4 linked regions of the Homo sapiens genome follow. The protein of the gene in region 1 binds, or shares a complex with, the protein of each later gene. Each region holds a gene or a part of one and is shown in the gene's direction. Other genes may lie near its edges.

Evidence for each region.
Region 2: TAF8 (region 1) and TAF13 share a complex: the UniProt entries of both Homo sapiens proteins name them as parts of the TFIID basal transcription factor complex.
Region 3: TAF8 (region 1) and TAF5 share a complex: the UniProt entries of both Homo sapiens proteins name them as parts of the TFIID basal transcription factor complex.
Region 4: TAF8 (region 1) and TAF3 share a complex: the UniProt entries of both Homo sapiens proteins name them as parts of the TFIID basal transcription factor complex.

What each region holds. Positions count from the first base shown.
Region 1 is NC_000006.12:42,052,629-42,061,272, forward strand, and holds part of TAF8 (transcription initiation factor TFIID subunit 8), read left to right. Parts: intron 1-2,902; coding exon 2,903-3,001; intron 3,002-3,323; coding exon 3,324-3,386; intron 3,387-4,760; coding exon 4,761-4,885; intron 4,886-8,644. UniProt on the Homo sapiens protein: The TFIID basal transcription factor complex plays a major role in the initiation of RNA polymerase II (Pol II)-dependent transcription.
Region 2 is NC_000001.11:109,065,281-109,073,924, reverse strand, and holds part of TAF13 (transcription initiation factor TFIID subunit 13), read left to right. Parts: intron 1-7,692; coding exon 7,693-7,790; intron 7,791-8,644. UniProt on the Homo sapiens protein: The TFIID basal transcription factor complex plays a major role in the initiation of RNA polymerase II (Pol II)-dependent transcription.
Region 3 is NC_000010.11:103,384,264-103,390,497, forward strand, and holds the end of TAF5 (transcription initiation factor TFIID subunit 5), read left to right. Parts: intron 1-1,062; coding exon 1,063-1,227; intron 1,228-2,911; coding exon 2,912-3,089; intron 3,090-3,257; coding exon 3,258-3,435; intron 3,436-3,742; coding exon 3,743-3,960; 3' UTR 3,961-4,802; downstream 4,803-6,234. UniProt on the Homo sapiens protein: The TFIID basal transcription factor complex plays a major role in the initiation of RNA polymerase II (Pol II)-dependent transcription.
Region 4 is NC_000010.11:8,003,505-8,010,504, forward strand, and holds part of TAF3 (transcription initiation factor TFIID subunit 3), read left to right. Parts: intron 1-5,573; coding exon 5,574-5,826; intron 5,827-7,000. UniProt on the Homo sapiens protein: The TFIID basal transcription factor complex plays a major role in the initiation of RNA polymerase II (Pol II)-dependent transcription.

The sequences.
Region 1 (8,644 bases):
TACTTTTAAAAGGAAATGTGTTGAGATTTAGAAGCCCGGGTGTGGTCTTACAGAGGCTTTTCTGCATGTACAACATATTTCCCTGTTTTGAACTTTTGGGGCATGGGATGGGATGAGGGATGGAAGTATTTACGGTGTTTCTTAGGGATCAACAACTATGAAAGGAAGTAGGAGAAAGGTTTGGGCAGAGGGAGATGTGGGGTGCAATGCAGGCCCAATAAAGAAGTGGACAACTTAGCCAGGACCCCTGGAGCATTATTGCCCATCAAGCTGAAAAGGCCCTGCCTTTATACTCAGGTCTTGATCAAACAGTAGATGTGGGCTACCCCAGGAAGGGTGATCTTGGGCAAGGTGGCTCTCTGCAGCTGATATTTGGCACTTTTAAATACCAAATGTTTTCCTAAAGCAGTGATCTCAATCATTGTGGCTTCAGAACTCCTATATTTATTTATTCTTATTAATTAGAGATGGGGTCTTGCTGTGTTGCCCAGGCTGGCCTCAAACTTCTGGACCCAAGCCTCCCACATAGCTGGGACTACAGGCATGTGCCACCACACCCAGCTCTCAGAATCCCTTTATATTAATAAACATTGAGGACCCCAAGTAGCTTTTGTATATGTGTATTTGCCACGTTAGAAAAAACAAATTTTGGGTCTAGGTGTGGTGGCTCACGCCTGTAATCCCAGCACTTTGGGAGGCCGAGGCGGGTATATCGCCTGAGGTCAGGAGTTTCAAGACCAACCTTGCCAACATACTGAAACCCTGTCTCTACTAAAAATGCAAAAAATTAGCTGGATGTGGTGGCGGGCGCCTGTAATTACAGCTACTCGGGAGGCTGAGGCAGGAGAATCGCTTGAACCCAGGTGGCAGAGATTGCATTGAGCCAAGATCACACCATTGTACTCCAGCCTGGGCAACAAGAGCGAAACTCCGTCTCAAAAAAAAAAAAAGAAAAAAAAAGAAGAAGAAATTTTGAAAATAAGAATGTACAATCACATATTCTGTTATTCATCAGACCCATGTTGTCATCAAAAGTCACATAGACTCAGGAAAACTACCTGAGAGAATGAGAGTGAAAAAGTCAAATAACAACTTAATTTTATTATGAAAATAGTTTTGACCTGTGGACTTTAGAAAAGATTTTGGGGCCTACCACAGATTCCCAGGCTACTACTTTTTGAACTTTGTCCTAAAGGAATGAATTAATAGTTCCCAAGAGATAAGAATGCAGTTCTTGGAACAATCTTGGAATTTAGAGTTTAAAAGTCATGTCTAGAGGCTGGTATTAGTGACTTGCTCAGTATAGCAGGGGGGTTGGTGGTAGGTGGTAGGTCTCTTGTTAGACACCCTTCCCTGTCAAGTACCACTTGCTTTTATCTTCTGAGCCACTGGGCCCCTAAAGTAGGAGTTCTTTACCTTTTGAGACCCCTTTGTACATTTGATAAAATCTGTGGACCCATTCCCCAAAAAATGCTTTTTTTGTGTTTAAAATTCAGCACAGCTTCAGAGTATTCATGAAACCTCCTGTCCACCTTGGAAGCTCATTCACAGAGCCGAGCTTCAAAAACTCCATCTTAGAAACCTTTCCCCTTTCCCCAAAAGACTTTAACGTGACTCTTAAATAGAGGTTCAGCTTCAGGCAGAAGAAAGAAAAATTGCCCATCAGAGAATAAGACCTTTTTGTGTGTGTGGTAGTGAGATATTCATAAAAAAATTTATCATTTTAACCATTTTTAAGTGTACAATTCAGTGGTATTAAGTACATTCACAATGTTGTGCAGCCATTTACATTATTTCCAGAACTTTTTCATCATTCTAAACAGAAACTCTGTACCCATAAACAATAACTCCCCATTCTCCCTCCCCCTCCATCCCCTGGTAACTTCTAATCTACTTTCCATCTCTAGATACCTCATATAAGTAGAATCTTTATTTGTCTTTTTATGTCTACCTTATTTCACTTAGCATAATGTTTTCTTTTTTCTTTTCTTTTTTTCTGAGATGGAGTCTCGCTGTGTCTCCCAGGCTGGAGTGCAGTGGTGCCATCTCGGCTCACTGCAACCACCTCCACCTCCCAGGTTCAAGCGATTTTCAGCCTCCTGAGTAGCTGGGATTACAGGTGTGTGCCACCTCACCTGGCTAATTTTTTATATTTGTGGTAGAGTTGGGGTTTTGCCATGTTGGCCAGGCTAGTCTTGAACTCCTGACCTCAAGTGATCCACCTGCCTCAGCCTCCCAAGTGCTAGGATTACAGGCGTGAGCCACCACACCTGGCCTTAGCATAATGTTTTCTTTTTCTTTTCTTTTTTTTTTTTTTTGAGAAGGAGTTCTCACTCTGTCGCCCAGGCTGGAGTGCAATGGCACAATCTCTGCTCACTGCAACCTCCTCCTTCCAGGTTCAAGCTATTTCTCAGCCTCCCAAGTGGCTAGGATTACAGGCGCCTACCACCAGGCCTGGCTAATTTTTGTATTTTTAGTAGAGAAGGGGTTTCGCCATGTTGGTCAGGTTGGTCTCAAACTCCTGACCTCAGGTGATCCACTGGCCTTGGCCTCCCAAAGTGCTGGGATTACAGGCCTGCGCCACCACACCTGGTCTAGCATAATGTTTTCAAAGTTCATCTATGCTATAACATTACCAGAATTTCCTTCCTTTTAAAGGCTGAATAATATTCCATTGTATGTATACAGCACATTTTGTTTGTTCATTCACCTGTTGTTTCTACCTTTTGGCTGCTGTGAATCATGCTGCTGTGAACATTGGTGTACTAGTAGCTTTTCGAATCCCTGCTTTCAGTTCATTTATGTATATACCTAGGAGTGGAATTGTTGGCTCATCTGGTAATTCTATGTTTAACTTTCTGAGGAACTGAGAATAAGTTTTATGCCTTTAATCCCCTCTTAGACATTTCAGAAATTGGGAGAAGTGCCAAGTCTTACTGTGAGCACACAGCCAGGACCCAGCCCACACTGTCCGATATCGTGGTCACACTTGTTGAGATGGGTGAGTATACCTTCAGTTTCCAGTTCTTCGATGCAACTGGGAGAGGAGTCCCTAGGAATCAGGCATGTCTGCTAAGTGTTCTTGGTTTCCCTCATGGTTCTCTTGAATTGCTTTGAGCTTGAGAGAGTTATCAAGAGAGATTCCTCTGAACACATCTAAGAGGCCTCATAATTCCCTGTTAGGGAATTCTGCCAGAGCTTCTTTTGCGTGGCTGCAAGGTCATTGAGTTGAGAGTTTAAGCCATTTGTCCATACTACTACTATTCTTTCTGTATTCAATATCCAGTGGTCTGGGCAGTGATTTTTGTTTTCCTGTCTCTTAGGTTTCAATGTGGACACTCTCCCTGCTTATGCAAAACGGTCTCAGAGGATGGTCATCACTGCTCGTAAGTGACTTTGAACTGAGGTACTTAGCAATTTTTCAATTAATGCTTGTGGAATGAAGTAATTGAATATGGTAGGGATTGGATTAGTAGCTACTTCCTTGTTGTGGGCTCTCTTCCAATGTTTGGGGCTACCTACAATATAATCTTTATTTGGGCTAGTCTGATTAGCATGTGAAATTCAGTCACCAAAAGGTAAACCATCTTTGAGATATTGCTGTGTTTCTTGTGTTCTAGCCCCAGAAGGGCAAATGATGCTGCTTGGAAAAATGAAAGTTTTTGTTCTTCTTAGATTAAGGGTTGGTAAATTGTGGCCTATGGGCCAAATGCAGCCTGCCTCCTGTTTTTGTAAATAAAGTCTTATCGGAATGCAGCCATATTTACTTATTATCTGTGGTTGTTTTCATGCTATAATGGCATAGTTTAGTTGTGGTAGAGACTGTACCACATGCAAAACCTAAAGTATTTATTATATGGCCCTTTACACAAACTTTGATGACCTCTACTTTAAGTAAACCTGGGTGCCATAAGCTGAGTAGAGAGTAACCAGTTTGGGCTTGTAGGACCTGGAGAGAGTTAACTGGATTTTTTTCTTTTCTTTCTTTTTTTGAGATGGAGTCTCGCTCTGTTGCCCAGGCTGGAGTGCAGTGGCACAATCTCGGCTGACTACTGCAACCTCTGCCTCCGAGGTTCAAGCTATTCTCCTGCTTCAGCCTCCCAAGTAGCTGGGATTACAGGCGCTCGCCACCACACCCAGCTAACTTTTATATTTTTAGTAGAGACAGGGTTTTACCATGTTGGCCAAGCTGGTCTCGAACTCCTGACCTCGAGTGATCCGCCTGCCTCGGCCTCTCAGAGTGCTGGGATTACAGGCGTGAGCCACCGCACCCGGCCTGGATTTCTTCTTTAAAGTCACTTTTTTCTTGTTGGCATTTTTTTAAAAACTCCCTCTCAACATAGCAGTGGAAGGTGCCATTTTCAATCCCCTCTTGTTATGATTAAGCTCACACTTAATGTCCCCAGCTCATTGTTCCTTTTTGTTATCCAAGGTCTCTGAAAAGAGAACCAGCAGCCCATGTAACCTGCGTAGCTCCTCAGCATGCTGTTTTACGTAGTTACTGTGGCCACAGCCACCCACCTCTACCTAAGAGGCTTGTGGGCAGATTGTTGTCAAAGGGAACGTCAACCAAGATTAGCCAGCAGGGCTGGGCATTGTAAGCCATCAAAGACCTTTTATCGATTGAAATACAAAATGCAACTTGTTTAGAAAATTGAGGTCTGGCATTTTTTTGAGAAAAGGAGGCTTTGGGGAGAGACCATAATCTGTAGAAATCAGGGTCTTGGGTGGAGGGGTAATCAGTTGTGACTCTGTTGCAGCTCCGGTGACCAATCAGCCAGTGACCCCCAAGGCCCTCACTGCAGGGCAGAACCGACCCCACCCGCCGCACATCCCCAGCCATTTTCCTGAGTTCCCTGATCCCCACACCTACATCAAAACTCCGGTGAGTGATGAAGCACTGGGACTGCGCGTGGTGTAAAGCACGGAGTCAGTTCCTACTGACTGTCACGTGGCAGAGTCCAGTCCAAAAGCTTGTTGATGAAAGAGTGGTTCAAAACTCAGAATGTGGCCGGGCACATTGGCTCACACCTGTAATCCCAGCATTTTAGGAGGCCGAGGCAGGAGGATCACTTGAGCCTGGGAGTTCAAGACCAGCCTGGGCAGCAGAGCAAGACCCTGTCTCATTTGAAAAATAAATAAATAAAGAAAAAAAAAAGAATTCAGATTATCTTTCATAATTGAGAAACAATTTGGCAAATGAGAATTATGTTCTCAAGTTTGCCAGCTAAAGTATAATTAACAAAGAAATTGAAGCTGGCCCCAGTATTGCCTGTCCTACTAAAACACAAAAGTACATAGCCGCATAGGAACAAGACTGAAAAGGTATTCCACTAAATGTTCATAGTAATTTTGGGTTGAGATTATAGGTCATTTTGTTTTGTGTTTACTTTTCTGAGTTTTCCAAATTTTCCATAATAGGAAAATTATTTTTTCAATTGGGGGAAAAGTTACTTTAAAAATATTTAGTAATGGCCGGGAGCAGTGGCTCATACCTTTAATCCCAACACTTTGGAAGGCCGAGGCAGATGGATCACCTGAGGTCAGGAATTCAAGACCAGCCTGGCCAACACAGTGAAACCCCATCTCTACTAAAATTACAAAAATTAGCTGTGCGTGGTGGCACATACCTGTAGTTCCAGCTACTCAGGAGGCTGAGGCAGGAGAATCTAACCTGGGAGACAGAGGTTGCAGTGAGCTGAGATTGCGCCACTGCACTCCAGCCTAGGCGACAGAGCAAGACTCTGTCTCAAAAAGAAATAAATAAAAATTAGTAATGATAATGAAATGGAACTTATCACTCTGAGCTCTAGGTCTGAATGAGGAGAAGATGAATTATCCTCTGTGGTTTGAATGTGTTCTAATTTGCCTGAATGGCAGTTTTACCTTCCGTTGGGAAGGTGCCCTCCCACACTTCCTTTGCTTCTGCCTGCATACCATATAGTGATGGCAAGCCCTCACGTCCTCTGGGCATTTTTCCATACCTTAGGGTGGGGGAGAGGGAATAGTAGCTGCCCAGCTAATGCAACATAGCCCTTGCCCTTGCCCTTGGTCAGATCTCTCTATTAGTTTCCTGGGCTGCTGTAACAAAATGCCACAAACCAGGTGACTTAGAACAACAGAAATTTATTGTCTCACAGTTCTGGAGGCTAGAAGTCTAAAAGCAAGGTGTCATGCTCCCTCTGAAACCTGTAGGGGAGTCCCTCCTTGCCTCTTCCTAGCTTCTGGTGGTTGGCCAGCATTCTTTGGCATTTCTTGGCTCATAGATGCATCACTCCAGCTTTCTGTCTTCACATGGCATTCTTTTTTGTGTGTGGTTGGGGGGCAGAGGGGGAGACTGGAGTTTTATTATTACTCAAATCAGTCTTCCCCAGCATTCGGGGAGCAGAGTTTTTAAGGATAATGTGGTAGGTCGGGGGAAGCCAGTGAGCCAGGAGTGCTGATTGGTCAGAGATGAAACCATAGGGACTCAGGGCCGGGCAAGGTGGCTCACGCCTGTAATCCCAGCACTTTGGGAGGCCGAGGTGGGGGGATCATGAGGTCAGGAGATCGAGACCATCCTGGCCAACATGGTGAAACCCCGTCTTTACTAAAAATACAAAAAATCAGCCGGGCATGGTGGCGGGCACCTGTAGTCCTAGCTACTTGGGAGGCTGAGGCAGGAGAATAGTGTGAACCCGGGAGGCAGAGCTTGCAGTGAGCCGTGATTGCACCATTGCACTCCAGCCTGGGCGACAGAGCGAGACTTTGTCTCAAGAAAAAAAAAAAAAAAGAAATCATAGGGACTCAGAGCTGTCTTCTTGCACTGAGTCAGTTCCTGGGTGGGGGCCACAAGATCAGATGAGCCAGTTTATTGATCTGGGTGGTGCCAGCTGATCCATCAAGTGCAAGGTGTCTCAACACTGATCTTAGGAACAGTATAGGGAGGGTCAGAATCTTGTAGCCTCCAGCTGCATGACTTCTAAACCATAATTTCCAATCTTGTGGCTAATGTTAGTCCTACAAAGGCAATCTAGTCTCCAGGCAAGATGGAGGTCTTCTTTGGGAAAAGGAGTGTCACTGTCTTTGTTTAAACTCTAAACTAAGTTTCTCCCAAAGTTAGTTTAGCCTCCGCCCAGGAATGAACAAGGACAGCTTGGAGGTTAGAAGCAAGATGGAGTCAGTTAAGTTAGATCTCTTTCACCGTCTCAGTCATAATTTTGCAAACGTGGTTTCAGTCCTTCCCTTTGGGTTTTATAACACCTTAATCTTAAGGTGTAGGCTGTGAAGATGGGAAAAGGCTATCAATTGCTCTGGCTTCTTCCTGCTGACAGGGCACATTATGGGAATGGGAGTGAACCCGAAGGTGAGAAGAGTGGAACTGGTTTGCAACTGTCTGAGTGTACTCATGCAGGCCTGGCTAGGCGTTCATGGCTTGCATGGCACAAACATTAGTACTCTGTAGTTTTACTACAGTGTTTAAGTGAAACAGCCCACTATAAGGTAAATAACGAGTCCTAGGATGAGGAGTACAATTCCCAATTTTAAAAGCAAAGATTTGGAAGCACTAGTTTGGGGACTTCTAACCCACAAAGACTTTAGAATTTAGTCTAAACTGCAGAAAAAACCTCAAGAACAGCTAACAACAGTGTACTATAGTTTTTCTTTTGAAGCATAATTTTTCTCTCTCCAGTCCCCATTTTTATTAAAAACAAATCATGATACAACTGATTTGTTTACAAAATAAACTTTAGTCTTACTGTACTTGGCCCGATTATTTGCATAAAGTGCAGCAAGAATAATTATTTTTCACTTAGACTTTTTAAATTGGCTTTGATAGAACTCTGTTCCATGAAGAATCTCAGATAAGACTTTTTAAAAGCCGAGCCCAGCCATGGGTTTGTACCCTCAAATACCTATGAGTTGGGCAAATTTGTCTCCTCTTGAGGTCCCAAGATAGCTTGGGGTTCCTGAGCCTGTTTGAAAGTGACATTCTTTACTTACCACAGGTCAGGAACCTTGTACAGAGACTCTGTGTGGACGGGGTATAAGGCCAGATTCCCCAACGGGCTTTAATTGGCTATATAAGTCAACTTTGATTCTTTAAAAAAAAGCATGCCATTCCAGTCAAAGCCTTGGTAAAATAACCAATTTCTCCAACTGTGGCCTGTTACAAAAGAAAACAGATTCTTATTGCACTTATGCAATTAGCTATACTGCCATAAATTGAGAATATTCACAAATAGTTTCCAAATTCTGGAGAAATCAGGTAGAGAGGAACAATATGCTGTAAATTTTGTTCACAGGAGTTTATTTTACTCACATGATAAAAGTTGCAAATAGTTCTAAAGAAATAATTTCTCTTGACTCTGAAAACAAAAGGTTTAGCAATGTTTAACACATTAGCTCTCCGTGAGAGTCCTAGAAGTTTGTTTTTTTCCTCTATTCCAATAGCACAGTTCTTAAAGTTATCTGAGACCTGCACTTAGAGTCCTATATTTGATTATAAACTGCATTTTGAAAAGGACCAAAGCAAGATAAAATGTCTGTGGATGACAAAAGTCTATAGCCACTATTAAAGCTACAATTGACTAGGAATTTTGGTTACTTCTGTGGCATACAACAATTTTACATAGCAATTATAATTATTAATGTACACTAAACT
Region 2 (8,644 bases), on another chromosome or scaffold:
GCTCCTCACCTCCCAGACGGAGTAGCGGCCGAGCAGAGGCGCTCCTCACATCCCAGACGGGGCGGCCGGGCAGAGGTGCTTCCCCACATCCCAGGGGATGGGCAGCCAGGCAGAGACGCTCCTCAATTCCTAGACGGGGTGGCAGCCGGGCAGAGGCTGCAATCTCAGCACTTTGGGAGGCCAAGGCAGGCAGCTGGGAGGTGGAGGTTGTAGCGAGCCGAGATCACGCCACTGCACTCCAGCCTGGGCAGCATTGAGCACTGAGTGAGCGAGACTCCGTCTGGAATCCCGGCACCTCGGGAGGCCGAGGCGGGCAGATCACTCGAGGTCAGGAGCGGAGACCAGCCCGGCCAACACGGCGAAACCCCGTCTCCACCAAAAAATACAAAAACCAGTCAGGCGTGGCGGCGCACGCCTGTAGTCAGGCAGGGAGGCTGCAACGATCCCAGATCGCTGCAGTACAGTCCAGCCTCGGCAACAGAGGGAGACGGTGGAAAGCGGGAGACGCAGACGAGGGGGAGGGGGAGGGAGAGCTTTTTTTGTATTTTTTGTAGAGACGGGGTTTCACTGTGTTAGCCAGGATGATCTCGATCTCCTGACCTTGTGATCCGCCTGCCTCGGCCTCCCAAAGTGCTGGGATTACAGGCGTGAGCCACTGCACCCGGCCTATAAATTGCTTTTTAAGTGAGCAAATGTAATTAGTGTTTTAATTTAGGGCAGAAGAACATACCTCCATTAGTTTTCCTCTTGCCTTTACAGCAGTAGAGAGGCTTCTTTGACTGTAAGCCACAGGTAATAATGGATCCTGCAACAGGTGTTGAGGGAGAGTAGCAAGTGAGTTGGGGCTTGGGCTTTGGACTAAGGCCCTGAACAAAGTAAGAAGGTGGTGAACAGCTGGGTGCAGTGGCTCACGTCTGTAATCCCAGCACTTTGGGAGACTGAGGCGGGTGGATCACTGGAGGTCAGGAGTTCGAGACCAGCCTGGCCAACATGATGAAACCCCGTCTCTACTAAAAATACAAAAATTAACCAGACGTGCTCGCTTGAACCCAGGTGGCAGAAGTTTCAGTGAGCCAAGATTGCGCCACTGCACTCTAGCCTGGGTGACACAGCAAGACTCTGTCTTAAAAAAAAAAAAAAAAAAGGTGGTGAATCGTGTAAGGCATTATAGTGACATGGAGGCTAGATGCAGTGGCTCACGCCTGTAATCCCAGCACTTCGGGAGGTCAAGGCAGGCGGACTGCTTGAGCCCAGGAGGTCAAGACCAGCCTGGGCAACATAGTGAAACCCTCTCTCTACAAAAAATACAAAAATTAGCAGGGCATGGTGGCATGCCCCTGTAGTTCCAGCTACTCTGGAGGCTGAGGTGAGAGGATGGCTTGAGCCCAGGAGGTGGAGGTTGCAGTGAGCCCAGATTGCACCACTGCACTCCAGCCTTGGTGACGAAACCAGACCCTGTGTCCAAAATAAATAAACAAATAAAATAAACAATAACATGGAGATTATAATGTATTGATTCTCCATCCTACCCCCTCAGTAGACGGTTTTGACCCTTTTTGGCAACACGAGGAAGGGAGAGCTGCTACTAATACTGATGATCCAGGCCAAGCCCTGGAACACAGCATGAAAATGTGCTCTCCATCTCCCAGTCCTGGGTCCTTTATGTAAAGTTATGTCTAAGTATTGAGAGATGAGGCCGCACAGATTTATGAATATGATTTATTTAGGCTGGGTTATATGTGAGCAGTTCCCAAATGCCCTTGAAACTACAGGGTCAGTATATATATATATATATATATATATGTGTGTATATATATATATATATATATATATATATATATGTGTGTGTATATATATATATATATATATATATGTGTGTGTATATATATATATATATATATATGTGTGTGTATATATATATATATATATATATATATATATATGTGTGTATATATATATATATATATTTTCTTTTTGAGACAGAGTCTCACTGTTGTCAGTCTGGAGTGTAATGGCGCAATCTTGGCTCACTGCAGCCTCTGCCTCCTGGGCTCAAGCGACTCTCCTGCTTCAGCCTCCTGAGTAGCTGGGACTACAGGCACATGCCACGACGCCTAGCTAATTTTGGTATTGTTAGTAGAGACAGGGTTTCATCATGTTGGCCAGGATGGTCTTGATCTCTTGACCTCATGATCCGCCGTCTCAGCCTCCCAAAGTGCTGGGATTACAAGCATGAACCACCGTGCCCAGCTTCAGCGTCAGTGTATCTTTTTTAAGAAAAATTATTTTCTTAATTTTTATTTATTTTCTTAGAGACAGGGTCTCACTCTTCTGTCACTGGGGCTGGAGTACAGTGGCATGATCATAGCTCACTGCAACCTTTAACTCTTGGTGTCAAGTGATCCTCCCACCTCAGCCTCCTGAATAGCTGGGACTATAGGTGCATGCCACCATGCCCAGCTAATTTTTTTTTTTTTTTTTCCTGAGATGGAGCCTTGCTCTGTCACCCAGGCTGGAGTGCAGTGGCGTGATCTCGGCTCACTGCAACCTCCACCTCCCAGGTTTAAGCAATTCTCCTGCCTCAGCCTCCCAAGTAGCTGGGATTACAGGTGTGTGCCACCATGCCCGGCTAATTTTTTGTATTTTTAGTAGAAACGGGTTTCACCATGTTAGCCAGGCTGGTGTTGAACTCCTGACCTCAGGTGATCCACCCCACTCGGCCTCCCAAAGTGCTGGAATTACAGGCGTGAGCCACCGTGCCTGGCCACACCCAACTAATTTTTGTATTTTCAGTAAAGACAAGTTTCACCATGTTGGCCAGACTGGTCTCAAACTCCTAGGCTTAAGTGATCCTCCTGCCTCAGCCTCCCAAAGTGCTAGGATTACAGGCATGAGCCGCCAGACACTGTTTTATTTTTTAAACATCCAAATCCTTTTCCATATTTTGTTTCCTCACTAATGCTGACCATTTCTTATTTCATTTCTCTGATGCTCCTTATACCATTATGTGGTTTTTACTTATTAGGTCAGCATAAGAAGGGGATCCTTGTACCAGAGCATCCCAGAGTGATGTTCAGTCGGTTGTTAGCAAAGACCTTTGTTCCACTGAGATTACTTTGTGATGACAGGAATTTGTAATCTTCAGGCTTCTCCTTATCTTACCTGAATATTCATAGAAGTTACTGACGAAAGATCTATTCTCCTGAACCTTTAAAAAAAAAATTTGGGGGGGACTGGGTACGGTGGCTCATGCCTGTAATCCCAGCACTTTGGGAGGCCAAGGTGGGAGGATCACTTGAGGTCAGGAGTTCAAGACCAGCCTGGCCAACATGGCGAAACCCCGTCTCTAATAAAAATACAAAAATTAGCTCGGCGTGGTGGTGCATGCCTATAATTCCACTACTCAAGGGCCGGGCACGGTGGCTCATGCCTATAATCCCAGCACTTTGGGAGGCTGAGATGGGCGGATCATGAGGTCAGCAGATCCAGACCAGCCTGGCCAACATGTTGAAAACCCATCTCTACTAAAAATAGAAAAATTAGCTGGGCGTGGTGGCCTGCACCTGTAGTCCCAGCTACTTGAGAGGCAGAGGCAGGAGAATCGCTTGAACCCGGGAGGCAGAGGTTGCAGTGAGCCGAGATCACACCACTGAACTCCAGCCTGGTGACAGAGAGAGACTCCGTCTCAAAAAATAAAAATAAAAAAAGAAAGCGTCAAGGTTTTGAAAGATGAAAAAGTCAAGGAACTATCGGATTCGAGGGAACTAAGGAGGCATGACAACTAAATAGTATGGGAACCTGAAACAGAAAAAGGACATTGGTGGAAAAACTTGTAAAATCTGAATGAAGTCTGTACCTGTACCGATGTTAATTTCTTAGCTTTGATGACTCCCTATGGTTGTATAACATGTTAACATAAGGGGAAGCTGGATATAGGGCATATGGGAACCCTGTACTATTTTTGCAACTCAGCTGTAAATCTAAAATTATCTTTTTTTTAAAAAGGCAAAAAAAAGTACAGAATCCAAAACAGAACGATAGGAACTATTGGCTCCTGTGTTTGTTTTTTTACTCCTGTTTCTGGACCTAAAGACTCTTGCCAGTGTAAAACCCTAGGGATATGTCTATCTCAGGCTGGTTTCCAAGTCACCCTTTTCTTCTGTAGGCCTGGTCTACTTTCTTCTCTTTGTACTTCTACTAGTTTTTACTTCTTCTAAATAGAGGAATTATTCTTAATTTACTCATTTCTTCCTTTAGAAGTATTCTATGAGTATCTTTTTTAAAAAAAAAAACTTAGGTACAATAAATTGTGCAAGTCTTAAGTGAACAGCTTGCTGAATTTTATGTATGCTATACAGTCGGCTCTCTATGTCATGGGTTCTGCATCCATGGATTCAACCAACCTCAGATGGAAAATATTCAGAAAAAAAAACTGTGCCTCTATTGAATATGTATAGACTTTTTTCCTTGTCACTATTCCCTAAACAGTATAGTATAACAACTATTTACATAGCATTTACATTGTATTAGGTATTGTAAGTAACCTAGAGATGATTTAAAATATACATAGGATGTATTTAGCTTATATGCAAATACTATGCCATTTTATATCTGGGATTTGAGCATCTGCAGATTTTGGTATCCACGGGAGGTCCTGGAACCAAGCTCCCAAGGATACTAAGGGACAACTGTATACATGTGCGCACACACACACACACACACTCACACACTTGTAATCACTACTAAGATCAAGATACAGAACACTTCCAGCATTTGACAGCATTTCTTACCATTTACATATACCCCTTTGATAATCTGATAAAAGTTATAATTATTCCCAGAAAAATGCCCATGTACAGATAATGTATAAAATTTTTCCGTATGATTTCAGGGTAGTCTCAAGGACTTCTTTTTTTATTTTTTGAGGCAGAGTCTCCCTCTTTCGCCCAGGTTGGAATGCATTGGCATGATCTCAGCTCTCCGCAACCTCTGCCTCCTGGGTTCAAGCTATTCTCCTGCCTCAGCCTCCCAAATAGCTGGGATTACAGGTGCGTGCCACCACGCCCCCCTAATTTTTGTATTTTTAGTAGAGACGGGGTTTCACCATGTTGGTCAGGCTGGTCTCAAACTCCCGACCTCAGGTGATCCGCCCACCTTGGCCTCCCAAAGTGCTGGAATTATAGGCGTGAACCACCGCGCTGGCCTTCAAGGACTTCTTAAAGCTTGTCTCTGGACTGGGAGTTTATAGGCGATAGGATAAGAACCTCTGTGGATCTCAGCTGGGTGTGGTGGCTCACACCTGTAATCCTAGCACTTTGGGAGGCCAAGGCAGGAGGATTACTTGAGTCCAGGAGTTCAAGACCAGCCTGGGCAACAAGGTGGGACCCTGTCTCTACGAAAAAATAAAAATAAATAAATAGTTAGAAACCAGTTCAAAAACTGCCTAGGCAACATAGCAAGACCCCTGTCTCTAGAAAAAATTTTAAATGGCTGGGTGTGGTAGCTTAGGCCTGTAATCCCAATAATTTGGGAGGCCAAGGCAGGCAGATCACTTGAGGCCAGGAATTCAAGACTATCTGGGCAACGTGGCAAAACCCTGACTCTACTAAAAAATACAAAAAAATTAGCTGGGTGTGGTAGCGCATGGCTGTAATCCCAGCTACTTGGAGGCTAAAGTTTGAGAATCTCTTGAATCCGGGAGGTGGAGGTTGCAGTGAGTTGAGATCGTGCCATTGCACTCCACCCTGGGTGACACAGTGACACTTCTGTTTCAAAAAAAACCCCACATATTAGCCAGGCATAGTGGCATGTGTCTGTAGTCTCAGCTGCTCACGTGAGCCAGGGAGGTTGAGGCTGCAGCAAGCTGTACTGCAACACCACTCCAGCCTGGGCGACAGAGCCAAGACTGTCTCAAAAAAGGAGAGCAAAAAAAAGAATTCACACGGATCCTGTCTGCCCTAAACTACAACTACCAACAAGTGCGATGCTGTTGTGGGTATGAGTAAAGACGCGAACCAGATCAGCTGGGTTCAAACTCAGGTTCCATCTCTTACTAGCTTTGTGACCTTGGGTAAATCAGTTACTGCAGTGCTTTAATTTTCTCATCTATAGAATGGGGATAATCAATAGTTTCTACCTTAAAGGATCATTGTGAGGATTAAATGAGTTATATATGTAAAGGACTTAAGACAGTACCTGGCATATAATAAGGGCTATATATGTTTTATCTTTTGGCAGTTATTTTTATTTGTCTGTATTAGACTTCTCTCTTATTATTTTTGAGACACAGTCTCTCTTATTATTATTATTATTTTTGAGACACAGCCTCCCTCTGTCACCCAGGCTGGAGTGCAGTGGCGCATTCTCAGCTCACTGCAACCTCTGCCTCCTGGATTCAAGCGATTCTCATGCCTCAGCCTCCCGAGTAGCTGGGATTATAGGCATGTGCCAACACCCCCAGCTGACTTTTGTGTTTTTTTTTTTTTTTTAGTAGAAACAGGTTTTCACCTTGTTGGCCAGGCTGATCTCAAACTTCTGGCCTCAAGTGATCTGCCTCAGCCTCCTGAAGTGCTGGGATTACAGGCGTGAGCCACCATCCAGGCCTACGCCCAGCTAATTTTTGTTTTTTATGTAGAGACAGGGTTTCGCCATGTTGCCCAGGCTTGTCTCAAACTCCTGAGCTCAAGCAGTCTACTTGCCTGGGCCTCCCAAAGTGCTGGGTTTACAGGCGTGGGCCACTGCACCCGACCTAGACTTATCCTTTGCATTTCCTATGGTTTCTTCAGATGAAGCCTGAAAGGGCTTTGCTGCAGTTGTATTGATCTAGGAAATGTCAAAATTCCTTGTAGTAAGCCCTCTGCTTTCTCATTTTGAGTACCCTGTTTCTTCCTATAAGAACAGATTTGGGGCTGGGCGCGGTGGCTCACGCCTGTAATCCCAGCACTTTGGGAGGCTGAGGCACGCAGATCACCAGGTCAGATCATCGAGACCATCCTGGCTAACACAGTGAAACCCCTTCTCTACTAAAAATACAAAAAATTAGCCGGGCGTGGTGGTGGGTGCCTGTAGTCCCAGCTACTCGGGAGGCTGAGGCAGGAGAATGGTGTGAACCCAGGAGGCGATGGAGCTTGCAGTGAGCCAAGATGGTGCCACTGCACTCCAGCTTGGGCGACAGAGCGAGACTCTGTCTCAAGAAAAACAAACAAACAAACAAACAAAAAAAGTATTTGGAGAACTGTCTCTCATGTCTTTTCCCCTATGGTAATATCAGTAAAGAGTCTGCCGTTTTTCCAACGCCCCACTGCCATGCCCACACACAAAAACCACCTCCAAAAAAGGCTAAGCTGTTGCTGTCTGTCCTGTCCTTTGCCAGAGTTTCCTACTTAAAGGTGTTCTGCTGGGGGCAGGGACTGGTAAGTAGATGCTAGAGATTAGGAAAAGACTGTTTACCTTAGGGTTCAGTAGGTGGGAGGAAGGAAGAGTTTTGCTGGAGGCTACGTGGGAACAGTTGGTCATCAGACTGTTCTTAAACCTTTTACACAAGAATCCATACTTGGAGATAACAAATACGATGTAAATATGTTTTCATACCAATATTATCTATAACTTGGTTCATTTCTACTTTATTTTTTTAAAGTATCAAATTGTTAAATCTGTAAAAGTAAACAAAAGTAAGTGATTGTTCTTTTACAGTGCGATGTATGATGTATGGCTTTGGGGATGACCAGAATCCTTATACTGAGTCAGTGGATATTCTTGAAGATCTTGTCATAGAGTTTATCACTGAAATGGTAAGATTCTTTCCTAACTGGTCTTAGTTAATTGAAGAATAGATTTGAAATATTAAACTTTAGGTAAGACTAGAACTTATGGCATCCCTTTGAAATAAGCTATCCATTTGAGTGCTTGTTTGCAGAAGTTATTGGTTACTATTTATCATTGAGGATGGAGGTTATACATGTATATTCTATCCCCCCTTCTTCCTTTTGTTTTTTTTTTTTTTTGAGATGGAGTTTCGTTCTTGTTGCCCAGACTGGAGTGCAATGGCACGATCTTGGCTCACTGCAACCTCCGTCTCCCGGATTCAAGGGATTCTCCTGCCTCAGCCTCCGAGGAGCTGGGATTACAGGCATGCATCACCACACCCAGCTAATTTTGTATTTTTAGTAGAGACAGGGTTTCTCCATGTTGGTCAGGCTGGTCTCAAACTCCCAACCTCAGGTGATCCGCCAGCCTCGGCCTCCCAAAGTGCTGGGATTACAAGCGTGAGCCAACGCGCCCAGCCTCTTGCATTTTTTATAAGGACATAATTATAAAATCCTTGAATAAAATAAAAATATTATCCATAATACCATTATCCAACATAGGTTTTTTTTTTTCCCCTCCTTTTCCAGTATTTAAAGATACGCAATTTTTTGTGTGTGTGTGTCTGTGTGTGTGACAGGATCTCACTCTGTTGCCCAGGCTGGAGTGCAGTGGCATGATCATTGCTCACTGCAGCTGAGACCTTCCGGACTCAAGTGGTCCTCCCACCTCAGCCTCCCAAATACCTGGGACTACAGGCACATGCCACCATGCTTTGCTGATTTTTGAATTTTTTGTAGAGACAGGGTCTCACTATGTTGCCCAGGTTGGTCTTGAACTG
Region 3 (6,234 bases), on another chromosome or scaffold:
GATCTCTAACACTGTAAAAATGGGTGGAGGGTGTTTTGTATTCATAATACCATCAGTATATTACTTGGATAGATAATAGCTTTCAGGCCGGGCACAGTGGCTCACGCCTATAATCCCAGCACTTTGGGAGTCCAAGACAGGCGCATCACCTGAGATCAGGAGTTTGAGACCAGCCTGGCCAACATGGGAAATCCTGTCTCCACTAAAAAGTACAAAAATTAGCAGGGTGTGGTGGCGCCCACCTGTAATCCTGGCTACTTGGGAGGCCGAGGCAGGAAAGTCACTTGAACATGGGAGGCAGAGGTTGCAATGAGCCGAGATTGCACCACTGCACTCCAGCCTGGGTGATAAGAGCAAAACTCCATCTCAAAAAAAGAAGAAAAGAAAAAAAGATAATAGCTTTCCATCCATCAAGGTTTCATCATTACGAAACTTTGAGAATTAGGTTTTTTGTTGCTTGATAAGGTTTTGCCAGATGATACATTTTTGAGGGAAACGTCTGATTTCAGTGAAAATTGTAATAACCTTCTGACTATCAATCTTTTGTGTTTATGCTTGAAAAAGGTAGAGAATTATTAGCATGTCTGTAGTTTTTTTTTCTTTTTCTTCAAAAGACATTTCCTTTTTAATTCTTACATAGCTTACACAGCATGGGAAAATAGCATCTTTATTTTAGGGTCAAAAATTGTTGAGTTTTAAGTGACATATCACATTTCTTAAACTTTCTCAATTGACCTTATTTGACTATACTTTGTTAATTACCCCTGCTATTTTTTTCTTGTAAAGAACTCTGATTTTCCCTAAGTTTTTGTATCATATTACCTCATTCAGTAGGTGCTCGGTATATGTAGAGTGTCAGGGTTAACATTAGTTTGGTTAGTTCTTTCAATTGATACCTACTGTGAATTGCGTGTATGAATTAAAAGTGAGATGCAGCATGTTAGGTATATTTAATATAGTCAAATATATATAAAATATTAAATGTATTCAAATGTATATAAAACTGGGCAGGTGACCAAAGGTTACTCTGGGAGTCAAATATATCACCTTCTCTTCTCTCAGGAACTATCTGCTTTCCTCTTCAGAGGACGGAACTGTTAGATTGTGGAGCCTTCAAACATTTACTTGTTTGGTGGGATATAAAGGACACAACTATCCAGTATGGGACACACAATTTTCTCCATATGGATATTATTTTGTGTCAGGGGGCCATGACCGAGTAGCTCGGTAAGAACACTGTGATCTTATGACTGGGTCTATTCAATGAACAGAATGGTTTCTTGTTGGGAATTACACAGCCAGCCAAATTCATTTACACTTCCATTATTGAGGTTCAACTTTCTGAGAAGCTTTTGCATTTATAACTTATTTGAAATTGGGGCCGGGCGCAGTGGCTTATGCCTGTAATCCCAGCACTTTGGGAGGCCGAGGTGGATGGATCACCTGAGGTCAAGAGTTTGAGACCAGCCTGGCCAACATGGTGGAACCCCGTCTCTACTAAAAATACAAAAATTAGCCGGGCGTGGTGGTAGGCACCTGTAATCCCAGCTATTCAGGAGGCTGAGGCAGGAGAATCATTTGAACCTGAGAGGCGGAGGTTGCAGTGAGCCGAGATCGCACCATTGCACTCCAGCCTAGGGGACAAGAGCGAGACTTCATCTCAAAAAAAAAAAAAAAAAAAAAAAAAAGAAAAGAAATTGGGGCAGGAGTATTATTATATCTGCAATTACATCTATATGAATCCTGGTTTTTAAAAAATAGTTAATTAACAATCCTCCCTCCCAACCCCATCAGATACTTAACCTTGTCTTCCATACCACTGTGAGCACCTTTATGTTTCTCTGTCATCTGCTTAGAAGTTGAGGATAAGGTAGTTCAGGTTAGAAACTATTTGGCCAGGTGCAGTGGCTCACGCCTGTAATCCCAGCACTTTGGGAGGCCAAGGAGGGCAGATAACTTGAGGCCAGAAGTTCCAGACCAGCCTGGCCAACATGACGAAACCCCGTCTCTACTGAAAAAAAAAACAAAAATTAGCCGGGTGTGGTGGCACGTGCCTGTAGTCCCAGCTACTCAGGAGGCTGAGGCAGAATTGCTTGAACCCAGGAGGCAGAGGTTGCAGTGAGCCGAGATTGCACCACGGCATTCTAGCCTGGATGACAGAGTGAGACTGTCTCAAAACAAAACAACTATTTGGTGGCCAGAACTAGGGGAAAATACTTTTCTGTGGTTTAGACTAGGAATAGAGGAGGAAGAATATACAGAGAATTGGAGTTCTAGAACTTAAGTTTTGGCTGGCTACAGTGGTACACGCCTATAGTCCCAGCTACTGGGGAGGCTGAGGTGGGAGGATTGCTGGAACCGAGTTTGAATCCAGCTTGGGCAACAGAGCAAGACCTCAGCATTTTTTTTTTTTTTTTTGAGACAGAGTCTCGCTCTGTTACCCAGGCTGGAGTGCAGTGTCGCCATCTCGGCTCACTGCAACCTCTACCTCCTGGGTTCAAGCAATTCTCCTGCCTCAGCTTCCTGAGTAGCTGGGATTACAGGCGTGCGCCACCATGCCCAGCTAATTTTTTGTATTTTTAGTAAAGACGGTGTTTCACCATGTTGGTCAGGCTGGTCTCGAACTCCTGACCTCGTGATCTGCATGCCTCGGCCTCCCAAAGTGCTAGAAGTGTAAGCGTGAGCCCCCATGCCTGGCAAGACCTCAGCTTAAAAAAAAAAAAAAATTGTACCAGATGAACTCTTAGGACTGTGAGTCTCATTTTTCTTCCCCTCAGTTAACTAGTAAGTGGGGGGCCCACTCAGAACTAACTTTTTATGTGGATGTTTCTGTATTTATTTTGTATAGATTTTTGGCGTTTCACAGCTATCTACTAATTGTCATCTTTTGCTTTCAATAACTTTATAAAAGGCTCTGGGCTACAGACCACTATCAGCCTTTAAGAATATTTGCCGGCCATCTTGCTGATGTGAATTGTACCAGATTCCATCCAAATTCTAATTATGTTGCTACGGGCTCTGCAGACAGAACTGTGCGGCTCTGGGACGTCCTGAATGGTAACTGTGTAAGGATCTTCACTGGACACAAGGTATTTTACACTCTTACTATTCCAGCATCCAAGGTTGCTTTCAAAATAAAAATATTTTTTAAACAAGTGACACATAAATTTTAAAGATACCATTCTTACTACAAAACTTTAAAATTTTGTCTTATTTTCCTAGACATACTTTGATCTTTTCTATGAACTTTTTTCTAGGGACCAATTCATTCCTTGACATTTTCTCCCAATGGGAGATTCCTGGCTACAGGAGCAACAGATGGCAGAGTGCTTCTTTGGGATATTGGACATGGTTTGATGGTTGGAGAATTAAAAGGCCACACTGATACAGTCTGTTCACTTAGGTTTAGTAGAGATGGTGAAATTTTGGCATCAGGTAAATGACTATTAATGGCTTTACGATAAATGCTATGTTAAGAGGAAACAGTGTTGACGACTGCAATACTAAGTCCTTATGTTTTAGGTTTTACTTCCCTTTAGCTATGATTCCAGAGTGTCATCCTACATCAATCACTTCTCAGGTTAAAGTACTGCTTGATAATGCTCCTTAGGAAGGAATAGAGTTATTGGTCAAGTTTAGATTTTTCACCCAAAATGTACAGTAAATACATAGTGTAGTGGACAAAATGTCCGAATGTAAATATGATGGATGCAACTAATGGTTTCCTTTGACTTCCCCTTAGGTTCAATGGATAATACAGTTCGATTATGGGATGCTATCAAAGCCTTTGAAGATTTAGAGACCGATGACTTTACTACAGCCACTGGGCATATAAATTTACCTGAGAATTCACAGGAGTTATTGTTGGGAACATATATGACCAAATCAACACCAGTTGTACACCTTCATTTTACTCGAAGAAACCTGGTTCTAGCTGCAGGAGCTTATAGTCCACAATAAACCATCGGTATTAAAGACCTTTTGGAAGCTACTGTTTTTAAAAAGGGAGACTAAAAGCAAATACCTCAGTGATTAATATTTAAGCTACAGAGAATGTTTTTGTCTATATGGATCTGGAAGTATGCTGCTTGGAAAAATCTGAACAGGACAGTTCCACGTTTCTATAGCAACCACATTTGACTAATTTCCGTTAGTTGAATAAGAGGTATTATGATCATGGAGGGGACATTTATGGTGCTTTGGATTGTGTGGAAACTATGCATTTTCTGTTCAAATGCTATTTTAATTTATTACATTTAGAAAAAAAGTTGATTTCAATAATTCATCCTGCTTCAAGATTCAAATTCAGAAATATACTATCATCTTGAATTTTAGCTGAAGAATCCTATGAGCATGTATGTTTCTGCTGTAAAAACGTAGTTACTGTATGGCACTCAAAAACTATGTTAAATGATCCACTAACTTTTTTTTTCTTGGCCCATGATTAATGGAATGTATGTAACTAGGTAGGGTTCCTTTCTTAGATCTAGAGGAAGTACAGCCACCCACTGACATCTGAATTTATATACCTGTTGAGTTTTGAGTGCACCCAAACACTCGATAAACCAGGTGAAGAAATTTAGCTTCCATGTTCTACTTCAGCTAAAACAGCTACATACAACCTAGTACACTTGAAGTCAGACAGACATTTCAGTTGCTTACCTCCAGTACTGAGCCTTGCTTTGGGAAACTAAAAGATTTAGACCAAGTCACTGCCAGTTTTTGCCTTTGTTGCATTTTGTACAGTTTTTATATTTTTGATATCTTGTAAATAAAGACAACCAGCTTTTCCAGGTTCATAATTTATTGTACAAATTGAATTATCACATGATGAGTTGGCATTAGCTTCTCCAGGCATGGGAACTTAACAGATGAGGTTAAGAACCGTAGACAGTTTAAAATCCTATAAACAAAGCAAACAGTTTAGATACAAATGTGGCCAGCTTTACTCTTAAGACACTCAAGAATTACTAAGGTAACATGAACCCACTGAAACTGAATGCGAATTTATTAGATTGTCAAAGATGTAACACCAAAAAAATTAAAGTGTATCTCAGATTAATACTTTTTTTTTTTTGAGACAGAGTTCGCTCTTGTTGCCCAGGCTGGAGTGCAATGGCACAATCTCGGCTCACTGCAACCTCCGCGTCCCAGGTTCAAGTGATTCCCCTGCCTCAGCCTCCCAAGTAGCTGGGATTACAGGCATGTGCCACCACACCCGGCTAATTTTGTATTTTTTAGTAGAGACAGGGTTTCACCATGTTGGTCAGGCTGGTCTCGAACTCCTGACCTCAAGTGATCCACCCGCCTCAGCCTCCCAAAGTACTGGGATTACAGGTGTAAGCCACTGTGCCTGGCCTCAGATTAATACATTTTAACCTAACATTCCACCTTTAACAAATAAGCTACCAACAATTTAGTATGATCCTAAAGGTATACTATTGGAAAAGTCTAGCATATAAAGTAACATCTTTTTTTTTTGTTCGGAGACACAGTCTCGCTCTATCCCCCAGGATGGAGTGTAGCAGCGCAATCTCGGCTCACTGCAACCTCTGCCTCCTGGGTTCAAGTGATTCTCACGCCTCAGCCTCTCGAGTAGCTGGGATTACAGGTGCCTGCCACCACGCCCGGCTAATTTTTATATTTTTAGTAGAGATGGGGTTTCACCATGTTGGCCAGGCTGGTCTCGAACTCCTGATCTCAGATGGTCCACCCACCTCAGCCTCCCAAAGTGCTGGGATTACAGGCGTGAGCCACCACGCCCAGCCTCTCCATTTTTGTAATGGGGATACTACCACCCTTCTGAAGTTAGGAGGTAATTAATATAAAAAATTGGGCAAAATACTACCTGTTCGTCAGGAATAAGCCAGTGATCACTGCATTCTCGGATATGCACTCCCTAAGGTCAACTGTTTTGAGATTGGAAAAGCTCTTAAGCATAGAAGAGGCCAGGCACAGTGGCTCATGCCTGTAATCCCAGCACTTTGGGAGACTGAGGCAGGTGGATCACTTGAGCCCAGGAGTTTGAGAGCAGCCTGGGCAACATCACAAAACCCTGTCTACCAAAAGAAAATACAAAAATTAACTGGGTGTGGTGGCATGCACCTGAAATCCCAGCTATTCAGGAGGCTGAGGCGGGAGGGTCACTTGAGCCCGGGAAGCAGAGGTTGCAGTGATCTGAGATCGCACCACTTCACTCCAGCCTGGGCAACAGAGCTAGAGTCTCAAAAAGAA
Region 4 (7,000 bases), on another chromosome or scaffold:
ATGCATGGGTAAATTTTGTGTTCATAGTGCTAAACAGAGCAATAAATTTTAATGTAACAGAATATGAATGTCTGTTGATATGATTTCAGATTACACATTGCAACCAACTTATAAGAAACTATCATTTGTTGCATTTAATGCAGCATTAAAGAAGAACTTACACCATTATCCAAAAAATCTTTTAAAATACTCCTCCCTTCTCTAGTTACATATGCCTACATTAAAGAGATTTGCAAAAATTTAAAACATTGCCAGTCTTGGCCAGGCACAGTGGCATGCGCCTGTAATCCCAGCTATTAGGTAGGCTGAGGCAGGAGGATTGCTTGAGCCCAGGAGTTCAAGACCACCCTGGGCAACAGAGCAAGACGCCATTATCAAAGAAAAAACAACCAAAACATTGCCAGTCATTACCAAGTTTTTTGTCTTGGAAAATATAGTTATTTTCATAAAAAAAAATGTTATCTGTTAACATATAATGGGTTCATTGTCGTTACTTTTAAATGAATTACTAAATATTTTTAAACTTTTCAGTTTTATTTTTATTTTATTTTATTTATTTTTTTTGAGACCGATTCTTGCTCTGTCACCCAGGCTGGAGTGCAGTGGCATGATCACGGCCCACTGCAACCTCTGCCTCCCAGGTTTGAGTGATTCTCCTGCCTCCTCCTCTGGAGTAGCTGGGATTACAGGTCTGCGCCATCACACCCAGCTAATTTTTGTATTTTTAATAGAAATGGGGTTTCACCATGTTGGCCATGGTGAATCACTCCTGGCCTCAAGCGATCCACCCACCTCGGCCTCCCAAAGTGCTGGGATTACGGGCATGAGCCAATGTGCCTGGTCCAGTTTTATTTTTAATATGGTAAATATTGACAGATATAGTGCACATTTTTTAAGTTCTTAATAATTTTTAGGAATTTAAAGGGGCCCTAGGACGAAAAATTTGAGAATTGTTGCTTTAGAATTTTTTTTTTTAAATGTGCTGGTGGCAAATTCTTAGCTTTTGCCTGCCTGTAAATGTTTTTGTTTCATCTTTATTCCTTAAAGATGTTTTCAAAGACATAATTTATTTTTCTTTAGCACATTGAAGATGTTATTCCACTATCTTCTAGATTTCATCATTGCTAATTAAGAAGTCAGCTGTCACCTGTTTCTTCTTTGAGAGGAATTGTTCTTTTTTCCCTCTAGCTGCCTTTCAGATTTTTCCTCTCTATCTATGATATTTTATAGCTTCACTTTGATGTGCCTAGATATAGATTTATTTTTATTTATCTTGCCTAGGGTGTGTTGGGCTTCATAAATCTGTGGATTGGTATCTTTCGTCAGTTCTGTAAAAGTCTCAGGTACTCTTTGTTAACATTCGTCTCTGCCCCATTTTTCTTCTAGAATTATGATCAAACATGCACTAATTAGACCTTTTATTGTATTCTCTTTGCTTCTTAGGCTATGCTCTGAAAATTTATTTTGTCCTAATACTCAGTTTATAGTTCTGTCTTGTTTCCAATCTGTTGTTAAATCCCTCCTTTCAATTTTAAATCTCAGTTACTGTATTTTTTAATTTCTAGAAGGTCTGTTTGGTTCTTTTCAAATCCACTAGATCAAGTCACTCTCTGTGACTTCCTACGACCTATATTTCTAGCCTTTGCCTTTTATTATTTTTTTAACATTGTAAGCAAAGTTGTTTTATAGTTGATAATTCTTGTATCTGTGGTCTTTGTCTCTTCATACTAGCTGTTATTTCTTAACAGTTTTCCCTGATCCCACCTTACTTCCTCATAGATTTGATTATCTTTGATTATGTGCTGCTTATTTTTTTTAAAGATAATTATCTGTATTAATATGAGACCTAGATTTTAAGATACTTCCCCTCAGGATTGTGCTGTGTGCCTGGGCACATTGCAAGTCCAAATTACTTTAAAGTATCCTAGAACACCAGAGGTGAAAATTCATGCCATTCTCGTGCATCTTTACCTTATGGGTATAGCCCATTGGGAATCCTTAGTGTCGGGAGGGAGTTCTATTACACCTTCCACTTCGGGCAGATCCTGGGCTTTGACATTCGTCCTCTTCATCATAACCAAATATCAGACTTGCCTAATGCGTAAATGCCCTTGGGGTAAAGCATCTGTGTTCTGCTTACCTCTCAGGGTTCCTGCTTTTCCCTTTAGCTTTGGTTCCATCACTTGTGTGTTCAACCAGTATGGGAAACTGCCTCTAGAAGCAGTGTTTTAAAATTTTAGTCTAACCATAAAAATAGAGAATGCTTACCCTCTGGATATAAATGCCATAGCGATAACTTTGAACTCCTACATTACATGCCTTTTATGTAAGGCAAACCTCAGTACACATTGAGAGACAGTGTCATATACTTATTAAGATCACAGGCTCTAAAATCAGACTGCCTTGTTTAAATCCTGGCCCTGCCATGTAGTAGTAACCTGTGTTAATTTATGCAAGATACGTAATCTCTCTGTGCCTTGGTTTCTTCGTTTAAAAAGCAGAATAATAGCTTGCCTCATGTGGTCATTATGAAAAACAAACAAGGCCGGGCACCGTGGCTTACGCCTGTAATCTCAGCACTTTGGGAGGCTGAGGTGGGCAGATGACCTGAAGTCGGGAGTTTGAGACCAGCCTGCCCAACATGGAGAAACCCCGTCTCTACTGAAAAAAAAAATACACACACACACACACACACACACACACACACACACACACACACAAATTAGCTGGGCGTGGTGGTGCATGCCTGTAATCCCAGCTACTTGGGAGGCTAAGGCGGGAGAATCACTTGAACCCAGGAGGCGGAGGTTGCAGTGAGTCAAGACTGCGCCATTACACTCCAGCCTAGGCAACAAGAGTGAAACTCCATCTCAAAAAAAAAAAACCTAGATAAGGCAAGGCAAGTAAATATTTAACACAGTGGTGCCTGGCCCACAATTGGCTTTCAAGTGCTTAGGACAGTCAGACATATAGAAAGTGCTCAATAAATATTCATCGGTTATGATGTTAAGCATTTATGAAGTGTCTGCTGCACCAACAAGCCTGTGCTAAAGTCTCTTGATCTTTGGCTGTATCCAAGTTAGGAAGATGATCACCCTTGCAGGAAACAAATAGAGAACAATTCGACAGCAGTAATGAAGTTACTTGCTGAAATAATGGTGAAGTTTTTGAAGTAACTTAATGTTTTATGAATTTATGATCAGAATAGCAAAGAGTCAGTGCCTTTTGGTGAAAGTGGTTTCTAAACTAGGACTATGAGGAAGTGGAACCGTGAAGGCTGGCAGCAATGAGGCCAGAGGCTGTCGTGAGCAACAGCCGTGAACATGGCACGGGGCCGGCAGTTCCCATCTGGATGCAGTTTTTGAAGTGTTTCTCCACATTGAGGTTCTCACTACAACCCTCTGAGGCCACTGCATTTCTTTTCACTTTGTTGCTGAGAAAAACAAGGCCTAAAGAATTGTGTGGAATAGTAGAAAGAGACAAGCTGGGACAGTCCACAGGCTGGCAATTCCTGGTGAGGTGAGGATGGCCATATTCCATGGCCCAGAAACTTCATTTCTAGGGATGGGGCTTGGAGAAGTCCTTGAACAGTTCTATTTATGAGTCAGTGTGTAAGTTTACAAGTGAATGTCTCCTACTTTCAGTAGGATGATGGACAAAAACCTTTGGCTTACTAATACCATGGAATACAATATAGTAATTAGAATAAATAATATAGATCTCTATGTGTCAGCATGGATAAATCAGGAGACATAAAACTAAGTGGGAAAAGCTAGTTGCAGAGGACAACTGGAGTGTGACATTGTGTGTATAAAAGTTAAAAGACAGCAAACAGTAATGCAGTATGTATTGTTTATGGACACCTACAAAGGCAGGAAAGGTACAGAGAAAAAAACAAAGTACCAAGAACAATAAACAAAAACATACCTGTCTTAGGGCAGTGGTTGCTCTGGGGCAGGGAAGGAAGTTCATCTGAAACAAATATGGCAAAGGCTAACATATTTTATCTCTGATTATTACCTAACTGTCTGTTATATTGTTTTCTCTGTGTGTGAAATTATATATATATATATATATATATATATATATATATATATATATATATACCTTTTTTTTTTAATAAAGAAGCTTAAAAACAAGCTTTGGAATCAAGTAGACTTTGGTTCAAAAGCTGCCACCCGTTTACTCAAATTCCTTTCTCTTGCTGATCTTCAGTTTCCTCATCTACAAAATGGGGTAATCATTACTTCTTTGATGTTCTCATAAGGACTGGATGAGATGATGTTTGTAAAGTGCCTAGTATAACCTCTAACTTCTTATAGGTCCTCAATAAATAGTGCTTTTTATAATAAATTGAGTAATCCAAGGCCACAGGTCTAGTCTCTGGCGGCTGTAGAATTTGAACTCAGATGTCCTGGCCCCAAGTCCAGAGCTGCTTCCACTGGCGAGAGTTGTGTGAAGAGGATGCTGTTAGTGGAGGAGCAGGGTCACAGTACCACAGCTCTAGCGACCTGCGGCAGCATCACCAGGACAGAAGCTGCCGCTGCATTACCTCCTCCTTACCTCTGCAGCCCGTCTGGGAACAATCTTTTTTTTTTTTTTTTTTTTTTGAGACGAAGTCTCACTCTGTAGCCCAAGCTAGAGTGCAGTGGCGAGATCTCGGCTCACTGTAACCTCTGCCTCCTGGGTTCAAGCGATTCTCCTGCCTCAGCCTCCTGAGTAGCTGGAATTACAGGTGCACGCCACTGCACCCGGCTAATTTTTTGTATTTTTTAGTAGAGACGGTGTTTCACCATGTTGGCCAGGCTGGTCTTGAACTCTCGACCTCAGGTAATCCACCCACCTCGGCCTCCCAGAGTGCTAGGATTACAGGGGTGAGCCACCTTGCCCAGCCTGAACGGTCAATCTTTAAAACCTGGCAATCAAAGCCAAACCCAGAAGTGAGAAAGTCTTCACAGTTTTATTGACAATGGCATTGAGAGTATTAAGAAGAAACATTGGAATTAAGAAGAGAGAAATAGAAACTTTTTCTTTTTAAGCTGCTCTGTCCAGCAGCTTAGGCCAGGTTAGGTTTATGGTAATTAACAACCCAAAAATCTCAAGGGCTTCCAACAGCAAATGTGTCTTTCTTGCCCATCTCCAGTGTGGAGCACAGGCTGCTCCAGGTCCTCTCCAGCTGGAGCCACAGTGGAAGGAGCAGCCCCTGTCAGGCCCCCCCGAGGACTCAGCAGAGGTGGGGGTGGGGAGCGCCACCTCTGAAGCCGTCAGAGCTTCTGCCCCAGCACAGGAACAGGCAATTGAAGTCATATTTCTGTGAACAATGCATGTGTATTGGTTGCTAGAAATTTCTAACTGTCTGGCCATTGAGGGGAAGTTTGGAAAATGAAAAATTCGTCTGAGTAAGTGGAGAGGCCACTTCATGCAGGGCCTGGAACTCAGTTCTTGAGCTGCCTCTAGACGTTGAAGTATTTCGCTACTGGAAGAAAAGCTATTTTACGATCATGTTTTTAAGCACGGGTTTGGTTCGATGATGATCCTGTTTTGACTTTTACCTTCTCTTCTTTTGTTGACAGTGTCATCAGCAAGGTGGTCCCTGCCCCCGAGGCCAAGCCGGCGCCCTCGCAGAACAGGCCGAAGACCCCACCGCCGGCCCCCGCGCCCGCCCCCGGCCCCATGCTCGTCAGCCCTGCGCCCGTGCCGCTGCCGCTGCTCGCCCAGGCCGCCGCGGGCCCTGCCCTGCTGCCCTCCCCGGGTCCCGCCGCCTCCGGGGCCAGTGCCAAAGCCCCCGTGCGCAGCGTGGTGACTGAGACGGTCAGCACCTACGTGGTGCGTACCTGCCGCCCGCGCGGTTAGCATGGAGACGTTTTCAGATCGAGACAAGTGTGTGCTCTGAATCACTATCGAATTTCAGACGCATTTCTCTTCAAAATTTTATTATTTACTTAATTATTTTTGAGACAGGGTCTCCCTGTGTGGCTCAGGCTGGAGTACAGTGGCCCAATCATAGCTCACTGCAACCTCAAACTCCTGGGCCCAAGCGATCCTCCTGCATTAGCTTCTCAAAGTGGTGGGGTTACAGGCCTGAGCCACTGCCCCTGGCCAGACACGTTTCTTTTTTTTTCTTTTTTTTTTTTGAGACAGAGTTTCGCTCTTATTGCCCAACCTGGAATGCGGTGGTGAGATCTCAGCTCACTGCAACCTCCACCTCCCAGGTTCAAGCGATTCTCCTGCCTCAGCCTCCTGAGTAGCTGGGATTACAGGCACGTGCCACCACACCTGGCCAATTTTTTGTATTTTTAGTAGAAACGGTTTCACCGTGTTAGCCAGGCTGGTCTCAAACTCCTGACCTAAGGTGATCCACCCGCCTCGGCCTCCCAAAGTGTGGGATTACAGGCATGAGCCACCGTGCCCGGCTTTTTTTTTTTGAAAGGGGATTTCACTCTGTCACCGAGGCTGGAGTGCAGTGGTACGATCTCGGCTCACTGCAGCCCCTGCCTCCCAGGCTCAAGCGATCCTCCCACCTCTTGAGTAGCTGGGATCACAGGCAGTCACCACCACTCTCGATTAGTTTTTTGTATTTTTGGTGGAGACAGGGTTTCACTATGTTGCCCAGGCTGGTCTTGAGCTCCTGAGCTCCAGCAATCCACCCATTTCTGCCTCCCAACGTGCTGAGATGACAGGCATGAACAACCATGCCCAGCCAAGATGCATTTCTTCATTGCAGTTTTTCACTGCATTTTCAAGCTTTTGGCTGAAAAGTTACATCACAATGTTCACATAGTCAGCCTCCATAAATCATATCAAAGCTTGTTTTTATATTGTTTTGGGATATGACTATATGCATATATACAGTAATATCAATCTGTAAATGTAGAGACGCATGGTGGTACTGAAATCTCACATTGAATTTCTTGATCAAGCAATTCAGTTATTCACTTAAGAGTATAATTTATAGAATGTACACTGATATTATGAGCCAGGTAGTGTTTCTGAATAATAG